Linked DNA regions of Homo sapiens: regions 2, 3 and 4 are each reported to be linked to region 1. Evidence: microRNA targets listed by miRTarBase, many of them from high-throughput screens and not tested one by one. Region 1 holds a microRNA gene; each other region holds the end of a gene's coding sequence.

Region 1 (7,162 bases):
GTAACCACCCCCGTGATTAAATTACCTCCCACCGGGCCCCTCCCACAACATGTGGGGATTATGGGAACTACAATTCAAGATGAGATTTGGTGGGGACACACCCAAACCATATCAGCCGCCTAGCTCAAACCTTAGGCCCATAACCTTAATGGCTGGCCTCCAGGGCTTAAAAAGTTCAGGACTGAATGAGGCAATGCATGTAATGTGCACTGTATCTGGAATTATCTCAGTGCTCAATAAATGGTATTATTAGTCTCAACAAACCTCTGCAACCCAAATGTTGGCCCTTTATGCAGATACAACAGGTTGTATCTCCCGTTGTTTCTGGGTCAGCTAATGGTTATGGCAGTCAGGCACAGTGGCTGATGCCTGTAATCCCAGAGCTTTGGGAGGCCAAGGGTGGAGGACCACTTGAGGCCAGGAGTTCGAGACCAGCCTGGGCAACATAGTGAGACCCCTGTCTCAAAAAAAAAAAAAAAAAAAACCATGGCTATTGAATGACTAGTCTGTGCCAGTTATCACATTTAATCCCATGAGAAATTTCCCCGCCCAGGTTGCAGAGGAGAAAAGAATGACTGAGGGAGGGGAAGGGACTGGCCCAGAGTCACACTGCCAGGCACAAGGCCAGCACCAGGCCATGGGGCTGTCTGCTATAGCACGACCCTCAGCGGGACCTGGGTGCCCAATGTCAGGCTCTCTCTGCCTCTGCAAGAAATGTCAGGGAGAAGATGACCAAGTGGTATTGGACAGAATGGCAGTGATGCTGAGGAAGAAACCAAAGGTGAGGGCCCTCTCCCTTTGTATTAAACGAAACTTTCCAGGCTTAGGCCCTGCAGCCTGTACGGTGTCAAAAAACAATTGTCATAAGTTGTCGACACTTGGAAACATTTAAACTTATGAGGTTTCACATTAAAATCTGTATTACTGCCTTCCTTTACAAATCTGGAAGAAGGAATGCATCTGTATAGGTGGGTAAGAGCAGGGGCTCTGGAGTCAGACTACCTGGGTTCCAATCCTAACTCTGCCACTAGCTTGCTGTGTGTCCTTGGCTGAGTTACTTAACCTCTCTGTGCTCTGCTTCCTTCGTCTGCATAACGGGGATAATAACAGCACTTTCACCAAGATTGTCATGGAGATTAAATAAGAAAGTGCCTATACAGCACTTCTTTAGAACAGCACCAGGCACAAAAGAAGCATGCAAAATGTTAGCTGGTGTTATTTGTAACTTTTTTTTTTTTTTTGAGACAGGGTCTTTCTCTGTCACCCAGACTGGAGTGCAGTGGCACAATCATGGCTCACTGCAGCCTTGACCTCCTGAGCTCAAGTGATCCTCCTGCCTCAGCCTCCCAAGTAGCTGGAACTACAGGCTTGAGCCACCGTGCCTGGCCGTTTGTATCATTATTTACAGTGTTTAGTATTAGGCAGTGCTGCCCCTGGATTCTGTCCCAGGCAGAGCTGAGTAATAGCTGCCCCTTTAGATGAAGTGTGACCTCTTCCATTGTCCACAGCCCACAACCCCAGGGACCAAGGCTGAGGTCCTAAAAAAGCCAACACTGTGTAGGGGCCTGACTCCTGGCTGCTATGTGACTTTGGACAGTCACTCCCTCTGTCTGGGCCAGTGTCCTCACTTATAAACCAGAGGCACAGGGCCCTGAAAACATTATGCTAAGTGAAAGAAGCCAGACACGGAAGGCCACATAATGTCTAATTCCATTCCTACCAAATGCCCAGAATACGAAAATCCATGGAGACGAACAGTGAATTAGTGGTTGCAGAGGCTGACGGAATGGGGAGTGACATCTCATGGCCACAGGGTTTCTTGTGGGGTCACAAAAATGTTCTGGAGCGCCATAGTGGAACCGGTTGCACAACCTTATGAACACAGTCATGCGTTACTTAATGATGGGGATACGACCGGGCACAGTGGCTCATGCCTGTAATCCCAGCACTTTGGAAGGCCGAGGTGGGCGGATCACCTGAGGTCAGTAGTTCGAGATGAGCCTGGCCAACATAGCGAAACCCCATCTCTACTAAAAATACAAAAATTAGCTGGGTGTGGTGGCACGTGATTGTAATCCCAGCTGCTCAGGAAGCTGAGGCAGAAGAATTGTTTGAACCCGGGAGGCGGAGGTTGCAGTGAGCCGAGATCGTGCCACTGCACTCCAGCCTGGACGACAGAGTGAGACTCCATCTCAAAAAAAAAAAAAAAAAAAAGATGGGGATACATTCTGAGAAATGTGTCACCGGGCAATTTTGGTGGGCAAACTTACATGAACCTAGATGGTGTAGCCTACTGCACAACTAGGCCACATGGCATAGCCTATTGCTCCTACACTATAAACCTGTACAGCATGGTACTGTGCTGAATACTGTCAGCAATTGTAATGCAATGCTAAGTATGTGTGTATCTAAATATATCTGGATGGTTTCCCTGCAGGTAACAGCTGGCTCTGATGTCCTAAGGAGACCCCAGCGCCATGACAAACCCAGGGATCTCTGATTGCTCCCAGCCTGAGTCGCTTCATATCCTACATGGGAGGCTGAATCCACAATCCCTCCTGCAGACGTACCCTCTCCTCTCCCTTGTCCCTGCAGAGGCCAGGGCTGCAGGGGATGAGGCTCGCCCCTAGTACTGCATGACCCTGTCTACAGGTTTGGAGGCTCCTCAGCTCAGCCTCGGCCCCTGGGCTCTTGTCTTGCTAAGCCCAGAGACCCAGCTCCCACTGGGCTTGGTGGCTGCTTGAAGTGGATCATGCCTTGCACCTCCCCCTCCTCTCCAGAATCTTCTATGTGTGCCGAGACTCCCAGAACAGGAGACATTTGGCTACATCACCCAAGATGGTGCCCACTTTCCATTGCCATGGGTCTAAGAAAAGGTGAAGTTCCCTCCCCCAGCCCTTCCCTGCCTGCTGAGGGATAGGACATGTGTCCCCATTTGCAGTGGATGCAGGGAGGGCTGGAGAAATGCTCTGTGCTCTGAGTAAGGCATGTTCCCCTGTAAGTGTGCCCATGACAGCTTGTGTATGCATATGTGCATGTATGGATATGCATGTTTGTTGGCAGGGATCTGTGCACATTTGTAGGTCTGCCTTTCTACCCGTCTTGTGTTCTGGACTGTGCACATATCTGCCTTGACAGACTTATCAATGTTCACACACTGGCTACACCTGTACCTTGTCTATATGTGTGGCTGCGTGCGTGAGTCTGCTGGAGCTCAGCACTTGTGTGGCTGAGCTGTTTACACCTGTCTGAATATGAGGGGTGTGTTCACGTGTCCCCTGAACGCACACTAGTGCATGTGTCCCTTCTGTGTGTGTCAAGGCAGGCCGCACGGCCATGAGGACCATAGCCCAGGCCTTGGAAGTTTTCCACGAGCTTAGACTCCAGCACCCACTGCACATGGCAAATGGCACCAGTGACCTGCCGTGGAAGGCACAGATGCCAGAGGGCACCACTACTCCAGCAGGAGCAACACCAACAAGGCCAGCACCAGCCCCACCCATGGCCTCCAGAGATCCTGGAGCCTGGAGGGCCCAGACGAGCTGGCAGCTCCAGGCTCCAGGCTCCTCAAGGTCCCACAGACAGGCCAAAATCCAGACAGCGGGAAGGGACAGCACAAGCCGGAGCCTGGGGACCAGAGGCAGTTTGGGGGTGCTCCATGGGGCCACACCCCAAGCCTGCTCTACATATTCTTCTAGGGCTCCAGAAGTGGGGAAAACCACAGGTGGGGAAGGCTGCCCCACAGGTGTACAGGTACAGGTGTGAGGCTGACATAGGTGGGTGAAGGATCAGAATCAAGAAGAGGAGATACTTCCTGCCTGATGAGTCTCTAGCTGTCCCCTCCAGGGCGCAAAGCCCCAGCACCTCCTTCTCTCCTGTCTTTGGGGCACCCAGCCATGGCCCCAGCCCCTTGGGCTCCAGCAGCAGCAGCAGATACAGGAGGCTGAGGCTCAAGTGAGAGTGGCTAGAGGGCAAGTGAGCTGAGCAGGTGGAGGCCAGACCACCCTTTCCCATCCCAGCTGGCCCGGGCCACAGGTGCCACTCGATGAGGCCTCAGCTAAGCACCGAGACAGTTGCCCTCAGACAGCCCACGCCAGCCAGCTCCCTGCACCAACCGGAAGCTCCTGCGGCACCTGGCACCACCCGAGGCCCGCCTGGGAAAGAGAGGGCCTGAGAGCCAACTCAGCCTGGCACCCGGGAGGCGATGGTCTGGTGAGACTTGGGAAGCTGAAGGTCCTGCCCCAGGTGGAACTCAGAAAGATAAAGAAATGGCAGCTCAGAGATAGGAGGGGACTTGCATAGGCTGCCTGTCCAGGCAGCGGCCAAGCTCTTGTGACTGTAGAGTCCTTTATTACCCTTTCCCACTCCCAAGCCAAAATGCTGGTACCAGGACCCAACTGAGTCAGATCCATCTTCAGTTTCCCCTAGACACCCACCCAGTGGGCTCCAAGAGGCCAAATCCCGGGGACTGGACCCCTAGGACAAGTCGGTGACCCAGGGTTGCCTGCCCTTCTTTGCCCCAATACCAGGACTGCCCTGGGCCTATAACATGCTTTCCTGAATTCTGGATAGGTCTCCCTACCATAGCTCAGAGAGGGTTGCCCACTTGCCCAAGATCACACAGCCGGGGAGCTGGCACCGGACAACTGGCCCGTGGGTGTTCTCCTGTGTCACTGTCCTCGGCTGCCCTGGGCTGGCCCAGCTTCTGAGGGGAAGGGGCCCTCCACAGAGGTACTGTCTCCCCAGGCCACCTCTTGCTCCTGCCCTGGCTTCAGCTTCCCTGCCACCCACCAGCAGTGATCAACTAAAGCCACACTTTGTCAGACATGGAATGAGGCTCCAACCCTGACTCCTTGTCCCCAGCTGAGGCCACCAGCAGCCACCAGCACACCAGCCCCTCTGAAGATCTGATGGCGGCCCAGAGCCAGGAATCAACTGTCGTGACCCTCACATTGCCCCTCCCACCAACTGGCACCAAAGGACTGCAGACCCACAGGGCAGCACTGGGAGGCATCCCAGGATAGGGTGGGGCTGCCTCAGAGACCTGAGGACCAGCAGTGCTGAGGAGACTCTCATGCTCTTTCCCTCCTTGTCTCGATGAGCCCTGAGGCCCAAAGAGGGCACAGGTGCTGACATGTCCCAGAGAGGGCAAACAGTGGCAGGACAAGGAGCCTGCACAAAGAGCCAGAGCTCTGCCCTGGGGGCAGACAGAAGAGGCAGAGGCAGCCCCACCCCCACCCCAGTACTCCCCGTAAGAGGAAGCAGAGGCCACCTTCACAGACGGTCGCTGCAGGCAGGTTTAACCCAAGCTCATGGGATGGTCTGTCCTCACTCAGCTAACCTTGCACACGCCTGTAGGCCTCCTCGGGCTAGCATTCTGTGTTCTCACCACATGCTATACCTGTGCCATTGACCTTACTCACTTAACACACTTATTGTGGTCAGATGGGGGGTGTCACATTGAGCTGGGAAGGCGGTAAGGGGATGCAGAATGAAGGGGATCCCAACAGGGTCCAAGAGAATATGATGTCCAACTGCCCCATTTTGCGGAGAAAGAAACTGAGGCCCAGAGAGCCCAAGGACGCATCACAGATGAAAACAGCATCTGGAAGCCGACTCCTTACAGAAGCCTGAGCCCACGCAGGACCTGCTTTTATGCTGCCCCCTTGTGGTCAGAGGAGGGACTGCCACCCAGAGGCGCCCCCTGCCTTGAGTCCACTGAAATATTTGGTCTCCTTTTCTCCTTCTGAGGTCAGCTCGCCTCAACCCTACCCCAGGGTCTTACTCCCTCCTTGTTTGTAGGTCCGGAGGATCCTCAAGGGCAAAGGGCACCCGAGTGTCCCCACCAAAGGCTGGCCCCCTTGAGCAGAGATACGTGGAGAGGTGACCAGCTTTGCTTTACTGAGCCTGCCTGGCAGCCCCACAGCCATATCCGGGCCCCCTCTTCAGTCCTCATCTCCGTGCCTCCTCTTGTTTTCTACATGACTAATCATGTCCTCTTTCTTGGAACCCCCTCCTTCCTTGGCCCCAGTGATGCCACACTCTCCTGGGTTTCCTCCAGTCTTCCTGGGTGTTCCTTCTCTCTTTTGTGGGCATCTTGTTCCCCTCGGTCCCAGCCTGTTGGTGCCCCCTGAGCCTCTTGTTTTTGCCTGGATTTGGAGCTGGGCCACCTAGCCGGCAAGCAGGTAGACACCTCAGGGCACCATCAGACCAGGAGCATCAAACAAGGAAGATGAGGAGGAAAATGTGTTTCTGTGAACCCATGGATGTGATGATTGCAAACGTTTTTTGTTTTTATTTTTATTTTTGTTTTTTGAGATGGAGTCTCACTCTGTTGCTCAGGCTGGAGTGTAGTGGTGTGATCTCGGCTCACTGCAACCTCTCCCTCCCAGGTTCAAGCAATTCTCCTGCCTCAGCCCCCCGAGTAGCTAGAATTACAGGCATGCGCCACTATGCTCGGCTAACTTTTTGTATTTTTAGTACAGACGGGGTTTCACCATGTTGGCCAGGCTGGTCTCGAACTCTTGACCTCAGGTAATCTGCCCATCTTGGCCTCCCAAAATGCTGGGATTACAGGTGTGAGCCACCGTGCCAGTCCAAGAGTTTTGTAAGGCATGTAAGTGTTACATTTTATAATTTAATTTAGACTCCTTTTTGACTCATGGGGGTGAGGTGAACACCATATCTTTGGTGCTTAGGGCTTCCAAGGACCTTTCCTGGGTGGCCTCAGCTGTGCACTGCCTTCAACCACCTGTCAGTAACCTTCCAACTCCCAAGTGAATATCTCCAGGCCTGATTTCAACTGCCTCCTGGATACCTCTCCAGACATCCCCTTGGCTCTCAGGCTCTAGGCTGATACCTCTCCAGACATCCTCTCCAGACATCCCCTTGGCTCTCAGGCTCTCAGGCTCTCAGAGCCACATCAGACTCATCATCTCTCCCCCAGGCCCCTTTGTCAGCACTGATATGCCCCAAGGTAACTTCATCTTCCGGCTCCATGCCCACCATGGCCAATTCCTCACCAAAGCCTGGCGAGTCCATCTCCTTAATAGCTCTGGGATCTGCGTCGTTCTTGCCACCTCACTCCTGCCCCTGTCCTGGTCCAGGCCACCACATCCCTCCCGTCTGGCCCTCCTGCCTCCTTAGCTGGTGCTCACATGCC
Region 2 (7,000 bases), not on the chromosome of region 1:
CAGTGAAGCAGGAACAGATTAACACTGAGCCTCTAGAAGACACAGTCCTGTCCCCGACCAAAAAGAGAAAGAGGCAAAAGGGGACGGAAGGGATGGAGCCAGAGGAGGGGGTGACAGTTGAGTCTCAGCCACAGGTGAAGGTGGAGCCACTGGAGGAAGCCATCCCTCTGCCCCCTACGAAGAAGAGGAAAAAAGAAAAGGGACAGATGGCAATGATGGAGCCAGGGACGGAGGCGATGGAGCCAGTGGAGCCGGAGATGAAGCCTCTGGAGTCCCCAGGGGGGACCATGGCGCCTCAACAGCCAGAAGGAGCGAAGCCTCAGGCCCAGGCAGCTCTGGCAGCTCCCAAAAAGAAGACGAAGAAAGAAAAACAGCAAGATGCCACAGTGGAGCCAGAGACAGAGGTGGTGGGGCCTGAGCTGCCGGATGACCTTGAGCCTCAGGCAGCTCCCACATCCACCAAGAAGAAGAAGAAGAAGAAAGAGAGAGGTCACACAGTGACTGAGCCAATTCAGCCACTAGAGCCTGAACTGCCAGGGGAGGGACAGCCTGAAGCCAGGGCAACTCCGGGATCCACCAAGAAGAGGAAGAAGCAGAGTCAGGAAAGCCGGATGCCAGAGACAGTGCCCCAAGAGGAGATGCCAGGGCCGCCACTGAATTCAGAGTCTGGGGAGGAGGCTCCCACAGGCCGGGACAAGAAGCGGAAGCAGCAGCAGCAGCAGCCTGTGTAGTCTGCCCCCGGGAAACTGAGGAACTAAAGAAAGCTGAAGGTGCCCACCTGGGCCACCAGAAGGTGACACCCCCAGAATCCCTCCCCAGAGACTGCACCAGCGCAGCCAGCAGGAGCCTGGCCTGGGAGGACGATTTATTATTACACTGGGGGTTTCCTTGGCAGCTGGGGTCATCAGGGTACTTTCAAGAAGGGCTCGTGCAGGACATCAAACAGCCTCCGGGCCTGGATGGGAGGGAGAAAAAAATGAGGAACCAGTCATTAAAGGAGCTGTTTCCTGGGTAAATCTAGAGTGGGGTTTTGGTTCTTTATTTTCCCCTATACCCTCAAGCATTTATCCATTGAGTTACAAACAATCCAGTTACAATCTTTTTAAGTTATTATTATTATTATTATTTTTTTTTTTTTTGAGATGGAGTCTCGCTCTGTCGCCCAGGTTGGAGTGCAGTGGCGCAATCTCGGCTCACTGCAAGCTCCGCCTCCCGGGTTCACGCCATTCTCCTGCCTCAGCCTCCTGAGTAGCTGGGACTACAGGCCCCTGCCCAGCTAATTTTTTGTATTTTTTTTTAGTAGAGATGGGGTTTCACCACGTTAGCCAGGATGGTCTCGATCTCCTGACCTCCTGATGCGCCTGCCTCAGCCTCCCAGTGCTGGGATTATAGGTGTGAGCCACTGCGCCTGGCTAAGTTATTATTATTTTTTTGAGACAGTCTCCTGGTGTCACCCAGGCTGGAGTGCAGTGGTGTGATCTTGGCTCACTGCAACCTCCGCCTCCTGGGTTCCAACGATTCTCCTGCCTCAGCCTCCCGAGTAGCTGGGCCTAAAGGTGCCCACCACTATACCCGGCTAATTTTTGTATTTTTAGTAGAGACAGGGGTTTCACCATATTGGCCAGGCTGGTCTCGAACTCCTGACCTCGTGATCCACCTGCCTTGACCTCCCAAAGTGCTAGGATAACAGGTGTGAGCCACCGCACCCTGCCAAGTTATTTTAAAATGTACCATTATTATTGACTATAGTCACCTGGTTGTGTTATCAAATAGTATGTCTTATTCATTCTTTCTTTGTGTGTGTGTGTGTGTGTGTGTGTGTGTGTGGTACCCATTAACCTTCCCCATCTCCCTGCCAGCCCCTAACTACCCTCCCCAGCCTCCAGGAACTATCCATCCACTCTTATCTCCATGAGTTCAATTGTTTTGATTTTTAGATACACAAATAAATAAGAACATGCAATGTTTGTCTTTCTGTGCCTGGCTTATTTCACTTAACATAATAATCCCCAGTTCATTATGTTGTAATTGACAGGATCTCATGTTTTTTTTGTTTTGTTTTGTTTTGTTTTGAAAAGGGTCTCGCTCTGTCGCCCAGGCTGGAGTGCAGTGGCACAATCTTGGCTCACTGCAACCTCCGCCTCCCGGATTCAAGCGATTCTCCTGCCTCAGCCTCCCAAGTAGTTGTGATTACAGGCACGCGCCACCACACCCAGCTCATTTTTTCATTTTTAGTAGAGACAAGGTTTCACCACGTTGGCCAGGCTGGTCTTGAACTTCTGGCCTCAAGTGATCTGCCCGCCTCGGCCTCCCAAAGTGCTGGGATTAGAGGTGTGAGCCACCGCGCCCAGCCAGGATCTCATTCTTTTTTATGGCTGAAGAGTATCCATTGTGTGTAAGTACCACATTTTCTTTGCCTGGTCATCTGCTGATGGACACAGGTTGGTTCTAAGTTTTGGCAATGTGAACTGTGCTGCAACAAACAGGAGTGCAGATACCTGTTCCATACACTGATTTCCTTTTTTTGGGGATATACCCAGCAGTGGGATTGCTGGATCATGTGGAACCTCAACTTTTCAGTTTTTAGAGGAGCCTCCAAACTGTTTTCCATAGTGGTTGTACTGATTTACATTCCCATCAAAAGTATATGAGGGTTCCCTTTTCTTCACATCCTCGCCACCATTTGTTATTGCCTGTCCACCATTTGTTATTGCCTGTCCTTTGGATAAAAGCCATTTTAAGGCCGGGCACCATGGCTCACACCTGTAATCCCGGCACTTTGGGAGACCGAGGTGGGTGGATCACCAGAGGTCAGGAGTTCAAGACCAGCCTGACCAACCTAGGGAAACCCCATCTCTACTAAAAATACAAAAACTAGCTGGGCATGGTAGCGAGTGCCTGTAATCCCATCTACTCAGGAGGCTGAGGCAGGAGAATCGCTTGGATCCAGGAGACGGAGGTTGCAGTGAGCTGAGATCATGCCATTGCACTCCAGCCTGGGCAACAGAGTGAGACTCCATCTCAAAAAATAATAATAAGCCATTTTAATAGAGCTGAGATGGTATCTCATTATAGTTTATTTTTGGTTTTTGGTTTTCTTTTTTGAGATGGAGTCTCACTCTGTCACCCAGGCTGGAGTGCAGTGGTATGATCTCGGCTCACTGCAAGCTCTGCCTCCCAGGTTCATGCCATTCTCCTGCCTCAGCCTCCCGAGTAGCTGGGACTACAGGTGCCCACCACCACACCCAGCTAATTTTTTTTTGTATTTTTAGTAGAGACGGGGTTTCACCATGTTAGCCATGATGGTCTCAATCTCCTGACCTCACGATCCACCCGCCTCGGCCTCCCAAAGTGTTGGGATTACAGGCGTGAGCCACCATGCCCGGCCTATTTTTGGTTTTTTTTGAGATGGAGTTTTGCTTCTGTTGTCCAGGCTGGAGGGCAGTGGTGTGATTTCAGCTCACTGCAACCTCCGTCTCCCGGGTTCAAGAGATTCTCCTGCCTCAGCCACTCAAGTAGCTGGGATTACAAGCATGCGCCACCACACCCAACTAATTTTTATATTTTTAGTAGAGATGGGGTTTCGCCATGTTGGCCAGGCTGATCTTGAACTCCTGGCCTCAAGTGATCTGCCCGCCTCGGCCTCCCAAAGTGCTGGGATTACAGGCATGAGCCACTGCACCCAGCCTCACTGTAGTTTTGATTTGCATTTTTCTGATGATCAATGATGCTGAGCACCTTTTCATATGCCTGCTTGCCATTTGTATGTCTTTTGAGAAATGTTAATTCAAATATTTTGCCCACTTTTTGATTGGATTATTATATTTTATCCTATAGAGTTGTTAGAACTCTTATCTTCTGATTATTGATTCCTTGTCAGATGGTTAGTTTGCAGATATTTTCTCCCATCCTGTGTGTTGTCTCTTCACTTTGTGGAATGTTTGCTGTGCAGAAGCCTTTTATTCTTTTTTTTTTTTTTAATTTTTGAGATAGAGTTTCACTCTTATTGTCCAGGCTGGAGTGCAATGGCGCTATCTTGGCTCACTGCAACCTCCACCTCCCGGGTTCAAACGATTGTCCTGCCTCAGCCTTCCAAGTAGCTGGGATTACAGGCATGTGCCACCATACCTGGCTACTTTTTTGTATTTTTAGTAAAGATGGGGTGTCTCCATGTTGGCCAGGCTGGTCCCAAACTCCTGACCTCAGGTGATCCAGCCGCCTCAGCCTCTCAAAGTGCTGGGATTACAGGCCCAAGCCACCGCACCTGGCTTAGAAGCTTTTTAATTTGATGTGATCCCATTTGTCCATTTTGCTTTAGTTTCCTATGCTTATAGGGCATTACTCAAGAAATCTCTGCCCAGTTCAATGTCCTGGAGAGCTTCTCAATGTTTTCTTGTAGACGTTTCATGCATTGAGGTCTTAGATTTAAGTCTGTAATCCATTTTAATTTGATTTTTGTATATGGCGAGAGATAGCTATCTAGTTTCATTCTTCCTCATTGGATTGCTTCTGCTTTGAGACAGGATCGCTCTGTCACCCAGGCTGGAGCGTAGTAACATGCTTATAGCTCACTGCAGCCTCAACCTCCTGGGCTCAAGCGATCCTCCCACCTCAGTCTCCCCAGTAGCTGAGACTACAGGCACGTAGCAAGCTCACACCACCATGCCCAGCTAGTTTTTTTTATTTTTAGTAAAAATGAGGTGTCCACTTGCCCAGGCTGGTCTCCAACTTCTGGCCTCAAGCAGTCCTCCCGCCTTGGCCTCCCAAAATGTTGGGATTACAGGCGGAAGCCACTGTGTCTGGTCTTTGGTTCTTTTTTCACCTTAAAACTTTGGGGTCTCAGGTTGTGTTTATTTGGGGCTCTCTCCTTCCCCCAACTCCTTGGGTTCTTTCCCAGAGCTCTTACTTTCTGAGGGCCCAGGCCTGGGCATAAGGCCAGATCTTCTCTTGATGCGGCGATGAGCTGTTCCAGAGACTGAAAGGTGAAAGCGAGGGGTCAGGGCAGTTGAGCACAAAAGCCTCCCCTGTCCCAGCTGAGGAGGGGCCTCAGATATTCCCCAGGGGAGATGAGGGCCTGTGGGAAGGCAGGACGGGCAAGGGGTGGGCAGGGAGATGGAAGGAAATGGGTGACAGGCTTTCTAAAAAAGGCAAGGGGACAGAAATGCCTATGGGGCAGGGGAGCCATTCCTTACTCCAAATGTGGTCAGGAGGGTCTGACTGTCCGTTTTGTTGACTGACTTCACGGTGGTCAGACATTCAGTCACCTGGAAAGGGTGGAGGCAGGAGTGTGTCGGAAGAAGAAAGGCCAGCAAGACTGAGCCTAGGAGGGCAGGGCTGGGTCACAGCTGTGTCCCCAGACTGCCTGGCGTGCAGGAAGCACTCAATAAACGCTTTTTTTCCCAACTGATTAAAAAGTCATCTCAGGCTGGGCGTGGTGGCTCATGCCTAATAATCCCAGCACTTTCGAGGCCGAGGCGGGAGGATCACCTGAGGCCAGGAGTTCAAGACCAGCCTGGCCAACACACTGAAACCCCATCTTTACTAAAAAATACAAAAATTAGACAGGCATGGTTGTGGGCACCTGTAGTCCCAGCTACTCAGGAGGCTCAGGCAGGAGAATCACTTGAACCTGGGAGGCAGAGGTTGCAGTGAGCCGAGATCATGTCATTGCACTCCAGCCTGGGCAAGAGAGTGAGACTCCATCTCAAAAAAAAAAAAAAGGAATTAGGCAGGTAATTGGGCAGAGGGAACAGAAGGGGCAAGTGCTTGGAGAAGCGAGCTAGGCCTGGGAGAAGTGAAGTGTGAAGTGGAGGCCACGGGGCTTCTGAGCCTGACGGGCCCTTGTTGAGCCTGGTGAGAAGTCTGGGCTTTCTCTCGGGGTACTGGGGAGCCATGGGAGGATTTTGAGCTAGGGAGGGTAGCAGCAGATTTGTGCTCAGGAAAACCCCTCTAGCTGCAGTTTCGGTGGGATGGGCCAGGAAAGACGAGGCCCAGGGATGAATGGACAGTGCCTTAAAATTGGAACTGAAGCTCAACCACCCAGGAGCTGCGGGGAGGCCCAGGCAGGGATGGGAGGTGAGGTGGCCTCACCCGGGAGACGAAGTCCTGCTCTAGCTTCTCCATCAGGAGGTCCGCTGGTTTCTGCTCATAGGCCTTGTAGGTCTCCAGGTACCGCCCAGCTTCCTCGGGGCTGGGATAACAGGATACAGGGCAGCCGGGAGGTGAGGTATCAGATTATAGATTTGCTTCATTATGGTCAGTCATAAGAATTGCCAATACTAGGCCGGGCGCGGTGGCTCACGCCTGTAATCCCAGCACTTTGGGATGATGAGGCAGGCAGATCATCTGAGGTCAGGAGTTCGAGACCAGCCTGGCCAACATGGTGAAACCTCGTTTCTACTAAAAATACAAAAAAGTAGCTGGGCTTGGTGGCGCGTGCCTGTAGTCCCAGCTACTCAGGAGGCTGAGGCAGGAGAATCGCCTGAACCCGGGAGGCGGAGGTTGCAGTGAGCCAAGATCACGCCATTGCACTCCCGCTTGGGCAACAAGAGTGAAACTCCATTTCAGAAAAAAAAAAAAAAAAAGGCCGGGTGTGGTGGCTCACGCCTATAATCCCAGCACTTTGGGAGGCTGAGGTGAGCAGATCACCAGGTCAGGAGATCGAGACCATCCCGACTAACATGGTGAAACCCCATCTCTACTAAAAATACAAAAAATTAGCCGGGCGTGGTAGCGGGCGCCTGTAGTCCCAGCTTTTCAGGAGGCTGAGGCATGAGAATGGCGTGAACCCGGGAGGTGGAGTTTGCAATGAGCCGAGATCACGCCACTGCACTCCAGCCTGGGCGACAGAGCCAGACTCCGTCTCAAAAAAAAAAAAAAAAAAAAAAACAATTGTGGTTGCTAAAAATCAAAATTCCAGCCCATCCCCCGCCAAATACAACCTGGTAGTAACCACTGCTGGGCGCATCTTGATATCTTTTCTGGCTACAGGCCAGCTCTT
Region 3 (7,162 bases), not on the chromosome of region 1:
GGAGGACTGATTGAGGCCAGGCGTTCAAGACCAGCCTGGGCAACACAGTGAGACCCCCACCTCTATTTTTATAATTTTTTTAAAAAAGAGCTCAGCGATAAAAAAAAAAAAAAAACAAAACTGGAGTGAAACAAAATGAACAATTTGCAGTGAGATTATGGACATGATTTTACATTATAAAACAATGTCTCATAAAACAATATCCCAGCAGTTTTATGATACTTCCTTTATATATTACAAGTTGTTTAAAATGCTCAAAATTGGCTTTAGTTTCCACGGTGGGCTACAGCTAAAGCAGCACTTAGAGGAAAATTTAAATATTTACATTTACATTGGAGGAAAAGTGTTACAAAGCTGGGGGAAAGGAGGAAATTAAATAAGTAACAGAAAGGAAATACTTCAGAGCAGAAACCAATAAAACAAAACAAACCGGGCACGGTGGCTCATGCCTGTAATCCCAGCACTTTGGGAGGCCCCGGTGGGCGGATCACAAGGTCAGGAGTTTGAGACCACCCTGGCCAACATGGTGAAACCCCGTCTCTACTAAAAATACAAAACAAATTAGCCAGACATGGTGGCGCATGCCTGTAATCACAGCTACTCGGGAGGCTGAGGCAGGAGAATCACTTGAACCCGGGAGGTGGAGGTTGCAGTGAGCCGAGATCGCACCATTGCACTCCAGCCTGGGCAACAGAGCCAGATTCCGTCTCAAAAAGAAAAAAAAAAAAAAAAAATCCAAAACCAAAACCAAACAAAAAACCAGAAAACAATGGAGAAAATAATGTAAAAAATTGGCTCTTTAAAAAATTAACTCAATTTCTAACCCTTTAGAAAGACTAATCAAGGAAAAAAAAGAAAACACAAATTACCAATATTGGTAATAAAAAGGGACCCTGCCACAGATCATATAGATATTGATAGGGAAATACTGAAAAAAATGCTTAAAATTCAGTACTAACACCACATAAACACAAAATTCACAGTGACAACACACTTATTTAAAAGACAGGGTCTTGCTGTCACCCAGGCTGGAGTGCAGTGGCATAAATCATAGCTCACTGCAGCCTCAACCTAGGCTCAAGCGATCCTCCTGCCTCAGCCTCCCAACTAGCTGGGACTACAGGTGCACAGCACCACACCAAACTAATTATTATTATTTTTTAAGAAACAGGGTCTTGCTATGTTGCCCAGGGTGGGGTCAAATTCCTGACTTCAAGTGATCCTCCTGCCTCCTGCCTTGGCCTCCCAAAGTGTGAACCACCTCGCCTGGCCACACTTGTCATTATACCAGCAAATTTTGTGAGAATTACATATGCATCTGCTTTTGCAATAAATGCATTTTTCAAGTACAGAACACAGGTTTACAACATACATCAAATCAAAATGGTAAATCTGAAGCTACTTTGTAATTAAAAAGCAAAATTAGCATCAAGTGAAAACTGTAAACCAACTAAATGCTACACTGATGAAGCTCTTAAGTTTCCTCCTAGACTGCATATTCAAACTATCAGCTTGTGCCTATGTTGGTATTAGCCTTTAGGTAATGCAAACTTCTTAGAATACTAAATTGGAATCCTTAGAAAATTCTAATAAAGTGCCAATTATGGTTTATGATTACTGAATTCTAAGAAATAAACCTTACTCTTTTAGGTTGCTAATAATAGTGGGAAGAAAGGATACGTCTTTTTGGATGAGTGTCCCCGCCCAAATCTCATGTCGGATTGTAATCCCCAGTGTTGGAGGTGGGGCCTGGTGGGAGGTGACTGGATTATGGGGGTGGTTTCTTATGGTTTAACACCATCCCCCTTGGTGTTGTCCCAATAGTGAGTTCTCCTGAGATCTAGTTGTTTAAAAGTGTGTGGCACCTCCCCTGTCTCTCTGTTCCTCCTGCTCTGGCCACGTGAAGTGCTTGCTCCCACTTAATCTTCCACCTTGATTGTAAGTTTCCTGAGGCCTCCCCAGAAGCCAAGCAGATGCCAGCATCATGCTTCCTGTACATCCTGCAGAACCATGAGCCAATTAAACCTCTTTTTAAAATAAATTACCCAGTCTCAGGCATTTCTTTATACCAATGCGAGAACAAACAAATACACCTGGGATCCTGGCTCCCAGCTTCCGATGACTTGTTTCATGAACACTAATGAACGGGCAGCACAGGGAGCAGGCATCCTCAGCTGCTCCTGGATGGCATCTGGATGGCGGGACATTTCATTTTTGCTTTTTTTTTTTTTTTTTGAGACAGAGTCTCACTGTTTCGCCCAGGCTGGAGTGCAGTGGCGTGAACTCTGCTCACTGCAAACTCTGCCTCCCGGGTTTATGCTATCCTCCTGCCTCAGCCTCCCAAGTAGCTGGGACTACAGGCGCCCGCCATCATGTCCGGCTAATTTTTTTGTATTTTTAGTACAGACAGGGTTTCACTGTGTTGGCCAGGATGGTCTCGATCTCCTGACCTCGTGATCCGCCTGCCTCGGCCTCCCAAAGTGCTGGGATTACAGGCGTGAGCCACCGTGCCCAGCCGGATGGCAGCATATTTTTTACATCATGTTGTTTTATTTTCAACTACTACAAAACAGAACAAGAATCAAATGTGATAATACAATTTTCTTTATTAAAAATAATTTACAGCATCAGTAACATATACACAATTGTCATCAACTGAACTTTGCCTCCAATATATTTCTATACAATACTTAACATTATTGAACTTAAAACTGTTACACTGTTTTGTTGGCTTTAAATAATAGACAATGATTTTTGTCTATTACTTAGTGATAGACAAAGTGATTACTTTGTTACTTAAGTGAGATATATGGTTTCATAGCCACATATTATGTGTAAAATTGATAGAAACGTCAGCAATATCACTCTTTAGGGGAAAAAACACTGAAAAGCCAAAGTCCACCCTCTTCTTCTCTCTTATTACTCCAACCAAACTAAGATAGGATAAACATCCAGTATCTTAGTATCTCCTCCTAAACCTAAAGACAAAAGAAAGGTGTCTTCTATTCAACCACAGAAAAATGTCAAATAATTTCTTCTCATCCTCTCACTCATCACTGTGAAAGCAAATGCACACGACCTTGTTACCATATATGCAGGCAACTATGATTCTGATTTAGGTCCTAGCTTTACTTTCCTTTAGTACAACTGTTGTTTGATTACCAACGAAAAACTAAGCAATCTGGCTAGAGGGATACTAGTACCTTCTTTCAAATGTCAGCATGGAGATAAAACAAAATAGTGATAACTGTCATCTTAGAAACTTTTTAGATATAATAATGGCAATTCAGTGGCTGGATGACATTTCCATTGATTCCATTGTATAAGAGTAGCAAAACCCCAAAATATGAAAATGGCAATGATATGTAGCATAATGTTTTCAAAGTATAAAAAAAACCCTGCTGTTGGTAGTGACCTTTGAAATTGTACTTTAAGCTTACAACACTGATTTGCTTTTCTTGTGTGTCTGACATTACACTTCCTTTTTTTTTTTTTTTTTTTGGTAACACAAAATTACCCAAGGTATAGTAAACAAAGAAGACACAGACAATAAAAACTAACAGATGCCACATTTTGCAAACATAGCATTTGGCTAGAGGCAGAATTATAAGGTATACATATTAAAACATACATCCAAGACTCTCCTCCTCAATTTGAAACCATGTTTATCAAGTTTTTACTTCATTGTATATAAGCCAAAAAATTAAGAGAACCTTGATTTGTTCCTGAAATACAAGATTTGCTTGTATTATTACTGGACCAGGTAGACTGGATATGTGAATGTTTAATTCATAGTTAGCTAGCTTTACCATCATCTCCTGAATCAGCTGCTGAGGATGCCTGTGCCTCTGCCCATAACTATATATAGAGTATGCTTTCAAAACAATATAGGCCGGGTGTGGTGGCTCACACCTGTAATCCCAGCACTTGTGGAGGCCAAGGCGGGCGGATCACGAGGTCAAGAGATTCAGATCATCTGGCCAACATGGTGAAACCCCATCTCTACTAAAACTACAAAAATTAGCTGGGCGTGGTGGTGCATGCTTGTAGTCCCAGCTACTCAGGAGGCTGAGGCAGGAGAATCCCCTGAACCCGGGAGGCGGAGGTTGCAGTGAGCCAAGATCGCGCCATTGCACTCCAGCCCAGCCACAGGGCAAGACTCCGTCTCAAAAAACAAAACAAAACAAAATAGATTTGTTTCCCCCTGCACAATCTGGAATTACCATTTCTTCAGAGCACATACAGGCATTTCATCTTTCAACCTGTAATTTCTCCTAACTCATGTTTTCATGTAAATTAAAAACACATGCACTAACAAATAAATATACAGCATATATCAAGAACACAATATAATTTGAAAGTGTCGAAGAAAATACTTATACAAAATTTAAATAAAGAAATCATTTTGTCGAACTCTAGTCCATCTTATTGTCTAAACACATATTTGCAAAATATTTTCAAAAGATTGTATGATTATGTGCAAAGTTCTTAGTGGTCTTCATCCACTGGTTTGGTAGTTTCAGCATTTTGCTTACAACAAGTAATTCTTTATGCAATGTGAACTAATTCTGAATTGCAGTAACTAACTAGGTCATAGAAAGATATCTATGTGAAAAAAAATCACTACAATTAACCTTTAGCCTGCTAGACTTAGTTTCTTAATTAAAAAAACAGTATAGAACCTTCTATAATTAATTTTCCAACCTTTTTAAAAAAAATTACCAAACATCTTGTTGACAGAACATTTGATGTGATGGGCAGACATGCATATTGAGGATATATAGTACTCAGCAACAACTTAAGTGTTTTATCCTTACGGTCAGCTTTGGTTAAAACAGTAACATAACAAAATTAATAGAATCATGCATCGCAGGTGATAAATGATTCAAAATGACAGGAAATCAATTTAATTAAGAAATAGCAACACTTAAAAAATGCATAGGGTTGAGCACCCGTATTATTGAGGGTGGATAATTTAAATGTATAGAAGAAATCAGTTCAGAGTTTAATGATTGAATAACATTCTCTTTAGCAACTATGAGTGTGAAATTTTGGTTAATGATACCGAAAATATTAGGTTATAGGAAGTTACAGTATTACATAAGGTGAGCAAAATAATCTAATCCAATTAATATAACGCCATCTGGGGGCTTGCCAGACAGTCACAGTGGCAAACTGCTGAAATATGAAAGGCTGCATCATATGTGATACATATTCCCACTGCTAATACATGGTGCCACACAATCAGTTGTATCCTGCCATGGTCCATCTTCATATGTGGAGGGAACCTTGGCTGGATTGGACAGAATGATTGTGACCTGGGGCAGGTTCCATCCCTTGCAGTTAGACTAAGGATAAACCTGGTTATATGACAAACTAAGAATGCCAAATGTGTCCAGCTCAATTCTGAAGAGGAATTAATATACTTAAAAGGTCCATTTATAAATGAGATTCCAATGGCCACAATTTTAGAGTCTAATCTGGCTTCTTATATTTCAATCTGCTACTCTTAAACCAACAAACAGTAGTACACAGTTTTATTGGTGCAAAACTAAACAAATCCAGGAAGGTTATTCATATAAGAATCTTCAACACAAATTCTGCCTTTATTTACAAAATGGTCTGATAAAATATCGCCCCCCCCCCATACTTACAGGTCTCTTCCACAACACACTTCACACGTTGATTTTAGCAATATTAATAGCACCATTCGTATATTATTTAAAATCAAGAAGATTTCATTTCAGTTACTATGTTGATTCATCATCATTTACATCCATGGATGAGATAAGTGAGTATACTGGGACTATCTGCTGCTCCATGGTAAGGATTCCTGGGTCCAGCACAAAAGGCTTTGCAGTTACCAGTTATGAAAGGTATCTATGGTAAGTAGATACTATGAGAATTTTCGTGCCACAAAGTTTAATAATCCTCCATGTTTGTATAATGTTATTTCCACATCATCTTCAAACGAAGCAATCACGCTGAATACTTTTCCAGTGCTTGTCTTGAAAGGAGCAAAAACATCTCATGTGAGCAAGTAAATCTTCCAGGTGCTACTTGATGGTTAAGACCATTTGTCTTCATATTTAATGACTATACTTGCCACAGATTCTGTCTGATTTATCTTGGTTCTAATTTCTTATATTCTGATTGCCTGAAACTTTGCTGCTGCTTGAAAAACACCTGAGATACCTGACCATGGGCTTCATAGTTAAGTAGAAAAATAGCTGCATTTAGATTTTGACTTATTAATTGGGGAAGTTATACTCACTACTCACATTCATTTTACACCAAATATTGATTGCATGTAATCAGTAACTCCTACTCTTTCCCCTTTTTTCTTAGTTGTAAAGTCTGTTTTGCTCTAACTTTGAACGCTCAACTTTGCTCTCTTTGGAGTGGTATGTATGCCTCGGTTAAAATTAGATCAGGACAGCAAAAAAATGACCACCATGAAAAGAAAGCTGACACTTGTTAAGTGGAAGTCAAGATTCCCCTTCATGTGTTCTTTTTTTCTGGTATAAGCACCCAGTTCTTTCCACTTTTCCTCAGAGAACATGAACTATTAACATAGCTAGATCTAAGTATGGAAGAGAGAGTCATCTTAAATGGCAACTTAACATTCATTAAGTGACATTAGTATATAATTTACAGCAATTGATTCTTATTCAATAATTCATAAACATTTGAGTGCATAATCATATATTTGAAAAATTTAGAGATACCTGTATATTCAATGTAATTCCAGGAGACAGTTCTTCAGGAAATGTTAAAGAAAATGTTTCTCTACCGGAGAGGCCCAAGGAATCTGCATTTTCTCCTGGAAGGAACTGAAGTGGAGCTATGCCAATTCCAATCAAATGATCTTTGTGTATTTTTTCATAACTTTCGGCCAAAACAGCTTTCACACCCTGTAATAAATGTGCATTTTATTCCCTCTAATCACTTCTGAAAGTTATTTATTGAGCATTTAAAGGGGGCAAAAATCTACTTTGGCCTTTCTCTAAATACTTTTAGTCTAATATCTCATACTGAATCAATATTTTATCAAAGTATTTACAGAACCTTCTTACAGATTATTTTTCTGAATTTTTATGGAGCTCTCTAAATTATTCGGATCCCTTTCTGCTGCTCTAGGGTTAAGTACTGCCGCTGCCTA
Region 4 (7,162 bases), not on the chromosome of region 1:
CACTGCAGGAACTAGCGCTCAGTTGGCAGAACTAATAGCCCTCATTCGGGCACTAGAATTAAGAAAAGGAAAAAGGGTAAATATATATACAGAATCTAAGTATGCTTACCTAGCCCTCCAAGCCCACACAGCAATATGGAGAGAAATGGAATTCCTAACTTCTGAGGGAACACCTATCAAACATCAGGAAGCTATTAGATTATTATTGGCTATACAGAAACCTAAAGAGGTGGCAGTCTTACACTGCTGGGGTCATCAAAAAGGAAAGGAAAGGGAAATAGAAGGGAACCGCCAAGCGGACATTGAAGCCAAAAGAGATGCAAGGCAGGACCCTCCATTAGAAATGCTTATAGAAGGACCCCTAGTATGGGGTAACCCCCTCCAGGAAACCAAGCCCCAGTACTCAGCAGAAGAAACAATGGGGAACCTCACGACGACAGTTTCCTCCCCTCAGGATGGCTAGCCACTGAAGAAGGAAAAATACTTTTGCCTGCAGCTAACCAATGGAAATTACTTAAAACCCTTCACCAAACCTTTCCCTTAGGCATTAATAGCACCTATCAGATGGCCAAATTATTATTTACTGGACAAGGCCTTTTTAAAACCATCAAGCAGATAGTCAGGGCCTGTGAAGTGTGCCAAAGAAATAATCTCCTGCACTGCAGGCCATACATTTCAATTCCTGTATCTTTAACCTCCTTGTTAAGTTTGTCTCTTCCAGAATCCAAGCTGTAAAGCTACAAATCGTTCTTCAAATGGAGCCCCAGATGCAGTCCATGACTAAGATCTACCGTGGACCCCTGGACCGGCCTGCAAGCCCATGCTCTGATGTTGATGACATCAAAGCCACCCCTCCTGAGGAAATCTCAACTGCACAACCCCTACTATGCCCCAATTCAGCAGAAAGCAGTTAGAGCGGTCATCAGCCAACCTCCCCAACAGGACTTGGGTTTTCCTGTTGAGAAGGGGGACTGAGAGACAGGACTAGCTGGATTTCCTAGGCCGACTAAGAATCCCTAAGCCTAGCTGGGAAGGTGACCGCATCCACCTTTAAACACGGGGCTTGCAACTTGGCTCACACCCAACCAATCAGGTAGTAAAGAGAGCTCACTAAAATGCTAATTAGGCAAAAATGGGAGGTAAAGAAATAGCCAATCATCTATCCCCTGAGAGCACAGGGGGAGGGACAATGATCAGGATATAAACCCAGGCATTTGAGCTGGCACCAGCTACCCTCTTTGGGTCCCCTCCTTTTGTATGAGAGCTCTGTTTTCACTCTATTAAATCTTGCAACTGCAAAAAAAAAAAAAAAAAAAAAAAAGTCTGTAGGTATGTGTTTGCAGGCACAGTGGCCACATGTTCAAAGAAAAATAGATGACAAATTAAAAAAAATATTTACTCAGGACCCAGATATGTATAGATTTTATTTACATTCCTATATGATTTTTATTATGACCACAAAAATGACGCTATAATAAAGATAACAATTTAGTTTTATATTTCAAAGTGACTAAAAGTGTAGATTTGGATTGCTTGTAATTCAAGGAATAAATGTTGAAGGTGAAGAATCCCTCATTTACCCTGACGTGATTATTACATATTTTATGCTGGTATCAAAATATGCTATATATGGCAGAAATATATCTACACACTATGTACCCATAAAAGTTAAGAAAAATAAGTTTAAATTTGTCAAGGCAAAAAAAAAAAGAAGTTTAAATAAGATTAAAAGTATAAAAATGTAACCTACGAGAACAATATTCTTTAATTTATTTGCAGGTTAAAGCCACTGAAAAAAAGAGATTACTAGAGATGTTATTCCACTCTTACCAAATAGTAAACTGTTGCCATCTCTTACCTACACCCTTGAGTAAGGTGGGATAGGTTAAAGCGAGTGGCATAATAACACTTCATTGAATGTACAACAGACTTAACATGTCAAAAAATGTTTAAAAAATTAAGTTTACATATAATCTAAAAATTTATGAATGTACTACATTACATAAAAGCACAACTAATATAATACATCACTAATTTAATTTTAATTTTAACTAAAATTTTAAAATGTTTTTCTCACTATAATGCACAAAAATATATTCCTCAGAACACCTACCTCATACATCACTCAATATTTTAAGTTAACCACAAAAAGCCTCTCCATTTAGATTTTTATCATGCATTTTATATTTTAATATCCTTTCTCTTTTATGAAAAAGGTCATAAATAATGCCCATCTAATAAAAAAGAATCTTTCATATCTCTGATGCAGCAACAATTGATCGCATGCTTTCACATGTAAATAAAGTAGGAATGAAGAGCATGAAGTAACTTGAGAGTTGAATTACATCCTTATTTGCTTTTCAGAGTCTGTAATTTTTTTCAATATTGTGATGTTAATTTTTTTGATATTTGAAGTATACAAAAAGTATACTTCAAATGTAATTATAATTCTCCAAAAAATCACCTCCTCTTTTTTAAGTTATATGCAAATAACTTATCTAAATTTTAGATTGAAATTATTTTTTTTACTCAACACTCTGATTTAGTGTAGTCTGAAGTGCCAGTGCCTTATCATTTCTACTGTGAATTCTCTGACATTTACAGAGTTAATTTTGGATTGAATATTTTTCATATTTACTGCATCTACAAAAAAAACTTACTCTGTTTTCTAAGCTGTAGTTTATAAACTTTTTTCCAAATTTATTACATTTGCAGGTTTTTTTCTCTATTATACATTCCCTGATATTGAACAAAGTTTGAGCAACTTTAGGGTTTTTCTCTAGCACAAAATATGCACAATAAGATCTGTGATACAAATATAGTACTACAACCGTCTTTATATTTGTAATGTTTGTCATCAAAAGAAATACTCTTCACCATTCTAAGGTTTATATTTTCTAAAAGATATTCTCACAGTAATTGCATTTTTAATATTTGTTTTAAGTATAAACTCTGTGATGTTAAGATGTGAGCAGATATTAATGGCTTTTCCACATTCTTCATAGGTGTACATTTTTTTTCAAGTATAAATGCTTTCCTATGCGATAAGGTGTGAGTATTGGTTAAATATTTTGCCACATTCTTCATAGTTTTCTCTAGGATAAATTAGCTTATACTCAAGTGTGACAACCATTTAAAGGCTTTGTGACATGACTCACATCTAGGGCTTCTTGACACTATGATTTCTTTTATGTTTAGAAAAGTTTAAGGTGTTCTCAAGAGCACTGTCATGTCTTTTAGGTTTGTAGAGCTTCTCTCCAGTATGATTTGATAACTTATTAAAAACTTTGCCACATTCGACCGGGCTCAATGGCTCATGCTTGTAATCCCAGCACTTTGGGGCACTTTGGGAGGCCAAGGCGGGTGGATCACTTGAGGTCAGGAGTTCAAAACCAGCCTGGTCAAAATGGTGAAACCCCGTCTCTACTAAAAATACAAAAATTAGCTGGGCGTGGTGGCAGGCGCCTGCAATCCCAGCTGCTTGGGAGGTTGAGGCCAGAGAATCGCTTGAACCCAGGAGGCGGAGGTTGCAATGAACTGAGATTGCACCATTGCACTCCAATTTGGGCGACAGAGTGAGACTCCATTTCAAAAAAAAAAAAAAAACTTTGCCACATTCTTCACATTTGTAGAATTTCTCTACAACATAAATTATCTTATGTGTAATAAGGGTTGAAATGTTTTTAAAGCTTTTGTCACATTCTTCATATTTATAAAATTTATCTTCTGTATGAATTCTCTTATATTTAGTATGAGTTGAAGACCAGTTAAAGACTTTGTTACATTCTTCACATTTGTCGGGTTTCTCTTCAGTATGAATTATCTTAATGTGTGGTAAGATGTGAGAAATGGTTACAGTGTTTGCCACATTCTTCATATTTGTAGGGCTAGTTTCCATTATGAATTATCTTATGTTCAGTAAGGTTTGAGGACGTTAAAAGCTTTGCAACATTCTTCACGTTTGTAGGGTTTCTCTTCAGTATAAATTGTTTATTAAGAATTGAAGAATTAGGCTGGGCACGGTGGCTCACGCCTTTAATCCCAGCACTTTGGGAGGCCGAGGCGGGCAGATCACCAGAGGTCGGGAGTTCGAGACCAGCTTGACCAACATGGAGAAACCCCGTCTCTACTAAAAATACAAAATTAGGTGGGCGTGGTGGCACATGCCTATAGTCCCTGCTACTCGGGAGGCTGAGGCAGGAGAATCGCTTGAAAACCCAGGAGGCGGAGGTTGCAGTGAGCCGAGATTGTGCCACTGCACTCCAGAGCCTGGGCAACTAGGGCGAAACTCTGTTTCAAAAAAAAAAAAAAAAAAATTGAAGAATGCTTATGGCATTATTCACATTTGTAGGGTTTCTCTCCCATTGAATTATGTTGTTTAGCAAGAGTTGAGGACTGGCTAAAAGCATTGCCACTTTCTTCACATTTGTAGGGTTTTTCTCCAGTACGAATTTTCTTATGTCTAATAAAGTTTAACTGATTAAAAGCATTGCCACATTCTTCACATTTCTAGAGTTTGTCTTCAGTATCAACTATTTTCTGTTGAGTAAGGTCTGAAAACCAGTTAAAAGCTTTGCCACAGTTTTCATATTTGTAGGGTTTCTCTTCAGTATGAATTATCTTATGTTCAGTAAGGTTTGAGGACCAGTTAAAAGTTTTGCCACACTCTTCACATGAGGCGGGTTTCTCTCTAATTTATCTTATATTCAGTAAGATCTGAGAACCCGTTAGAAGCTTTGCCACATTCTTCACATTTGTAAAGTATCTCTCCAGTATGAATTATCTTATGTTCAGTAAGTTTTGAGAAGCAGTTAAAAGTTTTGCCAAATTCTTTAAATTTGTAGTGTTCCTCTCCAAGATAAATTATTTTATGTTGAGTAAAGTTTGAGGACTGGTTAAAAGCTTTGCCCATTCTTCATATTTGCAGTGTTTGTCTCTACTATGAATTATCTTATGTTCAGTAAGATTTGAGGACTGATTAAAAGCTTTGCCACATTCCTCACATTTGAAGGGTTTATCTTCAGTATGAATTATCTTACATTCAGTAAGATTTGAGGACCAGTTAAAAGCTTTGCCATATTATTCACATTTGTGGAGTTTATCTTCTTTAGGAATTCTCTCATTTTGAGTAACAGCTGAGCAATGGTTAAAAGCTTTGTCACCTTTATTATATTTGTAGGGTTTTCCTCCAGTATCAATTATTTTATGTGTATTTAAGGTGTGAGGACTGGTTAAAGGCTTTGCCACATTCTTTACATTTGTGGGGTTTCTCTCCAGCATGAATTGTTTTCTGCCTATTAAGGCTTGAGGACTGGTTAAAAGCTTTGCCACATTCTTCACATATGGAGGGTCTGTCTCTAGTATAAATTATCTTATGTGTATTAAGGTTTGTAAAATGGTTGAAAGCTTTGACACATTCTTCACATTTTTAGGGCTTCTCCCCAGTATGAATTATCTTATGTTTAGTAAGGGCTGAAAGATGGTTAAAAGCTTTGCCACATTCTTCACATTTGTAGGTTTTCCCTCCAGTATGAATTGTTTTATGTTGAGTAAGGTGTGAGGACTGGTTAAAGGCTTTGCCACATTCTTCACATTTGTAGGGTTTCTCTCCAGAATGAATTATCTTATGTTTAGTAAGGTTTGAGGACTAAATGCTTTACCACACTCTTCACATTTGTAGGGTTTCTTTCCAGTATGAATTATCCTATGTTTAGTAAGGCGTGAGAAATGGCTAAAAGCTTTGCCACGTTCTTCACATTTGTAGGGTTTCTCTCCAGTATGAATTGATTTATGTTTAGTAAGGTGTGAGGATTGCTTAAAAGCTTTGCCACATTCTTCACATTTGTACGGTTTCTCCCCAGTATGAATTATCTTATGTTTCATAAGGGTCGAGAAATTGTTAAAACCTTTGCCACATTCTTCACATTTGTACGGTTTCTCCCCAGTATGAATTATCTTATGTTTCATAAGGGTTGAGGAATTGTTAAAAGCTTTGCCACATTCTTCACATTTGTAGGGTTTCTTTCCAGTATAATTATCTCATGTTTTCTAAGGGCTGAGAAATGCTTAAAAGCTTTGCCACATTCTTCACATTTGTAGGGTTTCTCTACAGTATGAATTACCTTATGTTCCATAAGTTTTGAGACCACTTAAAAGCTTTACCACATTCTTCACATTTGTATGGTTTCTCCCCAGTATGAATTATCTTATGTTTCCTAAGGGCTGAGAAATTGCTAAAAGCTTTGCCACATTCTTCACATTTGTACGATTTCTCCCTAGTATGAATTAGCTTATGTTTCTTAAGGGTTGAGGAATTGTTAAAAGCTTTTCCACATTCTCCACATTTGTAGGGCTTCTCCCCAGTATGAACTGCTTTATGTCTAGTAAGGTGTGAGGACTGCTTAAAAGCTTTGCCACATTCTTCACATTTGTATGGTTTCTTCCCAGTATAAATTATCTTATGTTTCCTAAGGGTTGAGGAATTGTTAAAAGCTTTGCCACATTCTTCACATTTGTAGGGTTTCTTTCCAGTATGAATTATCTCATGTTTTCTAAGGGCTGAGAAATGTTTAAAAGCTTTGCCACATTCTTCACATTTGCAGGGTTTCTCTCCATATGAATTACCTTATGTAAAGTAAGTTTTGAGGACCACTGAAAAGCTTTACCACATTCTTCACATTTGTAGGATTTCTCTCCAGTATGAATTATCTCATGTTTTCTAAGGGTTGAGGAATTGTTAAAAGCTTTGCCACATTCTTCACATTTATAGGGTTTCTTTCCAGTATGAATTATCTTATGTTTTCTAAGGGCTGAGAAATGCTTAAAAGCTTTGCCACATTCTTCACATTTGCAGGGTTTCTCTGCAGTATGAATTACCTTATGTACAGTAAGTTTTGAGGACCACTTAAAAGCTTTACCACATTCTTCACATTTGTAGGGTTTCTCTCCAGTATGAATTATCTCATGTTTTCTAAGAGTTGAGGACTGGCTAAAAGCTTTGCCACATTCTTCACATTTGTAGGGTTTCTTTCCAGTATGAATTATCTTATGTTTCCTAAGGGCTGAGAAATGGTTAAAAGCCTTGCCACATTCTTCACATTTGTAGGGTTTCTCTTCAGTATGAATTACTTTATGTCTAGTAAGGTGTGAGGACCACTTAAAA

The links. The annotated mature microRNA hsa-miR-4478 reads GAGGCUGAGCUGAGGAG and lies in region 1 at 2,662-2,678, opposite strand. An mRNA with a match to its seed (bases 2 to 7 or 8) in the 3' UTR can be bound and repressed. Matches are read on the target gene's strand: a 7mer-m8 pairs with bases 2 to 8, a 7mer-A1 pairs with bases 2 to 7 and ends in A, and an 8mer does both.
Region 2: the mRNA of POLR1G is a reported target of hsa-miR-4478. Seed matches in the 3' UTR shown: 7mer-m8 at 1,237-1,243, 7mer-m8 at 1,367-1,373 and 7mer-m8 at 1,529-1,535.
Region 3: the mRNA of IREB2 is a reported target of hsa-miR-4478. Seed matches in the 3' UTR shown: 7mer-m8 at 4,066-4,072.
Region 4: the mRNA of ZNF99 is a reported target of hsa-miR-4478. Seed matches in the 3' UTR shown: 7mer-m8 at 4,189-4,195 and 7mer-A1 at 4,010-4,016.

What each region holds. Positions count from the first base shown.
Region 1 is chr9:122,117,486-122,124,647 of GRCh38, forward strand. MIR4478 (microRNA 4478) reads right to left here and starts at 2,682; the gene lies at 2,597-2,682.
Region 2 is chr19:45,408,771-45,415,770 of GRCh38, forward strand. It overlaps POLR1G (RNA polymerase I subunit G), which reads left to right. Exons shown (of 3, transcript NM_012099.3): 3 at 1-1,967. The coding sequence ends at 731. ERCC1 (ERCC excision repair 1, endonuclease non-catalytic subunit) reads right to left here. Exons shown (of 10, transcript NM_001983.4): 7 at 6,091-6,190; 8 at 5,193-5,264; 9 at 4,907-4,975; 10 at 1-955. The coding sequence ends at 905. Among named protein-coding and RNA genes, the nearest start is that of POLR1G, 5.6 kb to the left of the region's middle.
Region 3 is chr15:78,496,878-78,504,039 of GRCh38, reverse strand. IREB2 (iron responsive element binding protein 2) reads right to left here. Exons shown (of 22, transcript NM_004136.4): 21 at 6,729-6,914; 22 at 2,587-6,007. The coding sequence ends at 5,897. Among named protein-coding and RNA genes, the nearest start is that of HYKK, 7.1 kb to the left of the region's middle.
Region 4 is chr19:22,750,777-22,757,938 of GRCh38, forward strand. ZNF99 (zinc finger protein 99) reads right to left here. Exons shown (of 4, transcript NM_001080409.3): 4 at 1,407-7,162. The coding sequence ends at 6,538. Among named protein-coding and RNA genes, the nearest start is that of ZNF99, 30 kb to the right of the region's middle.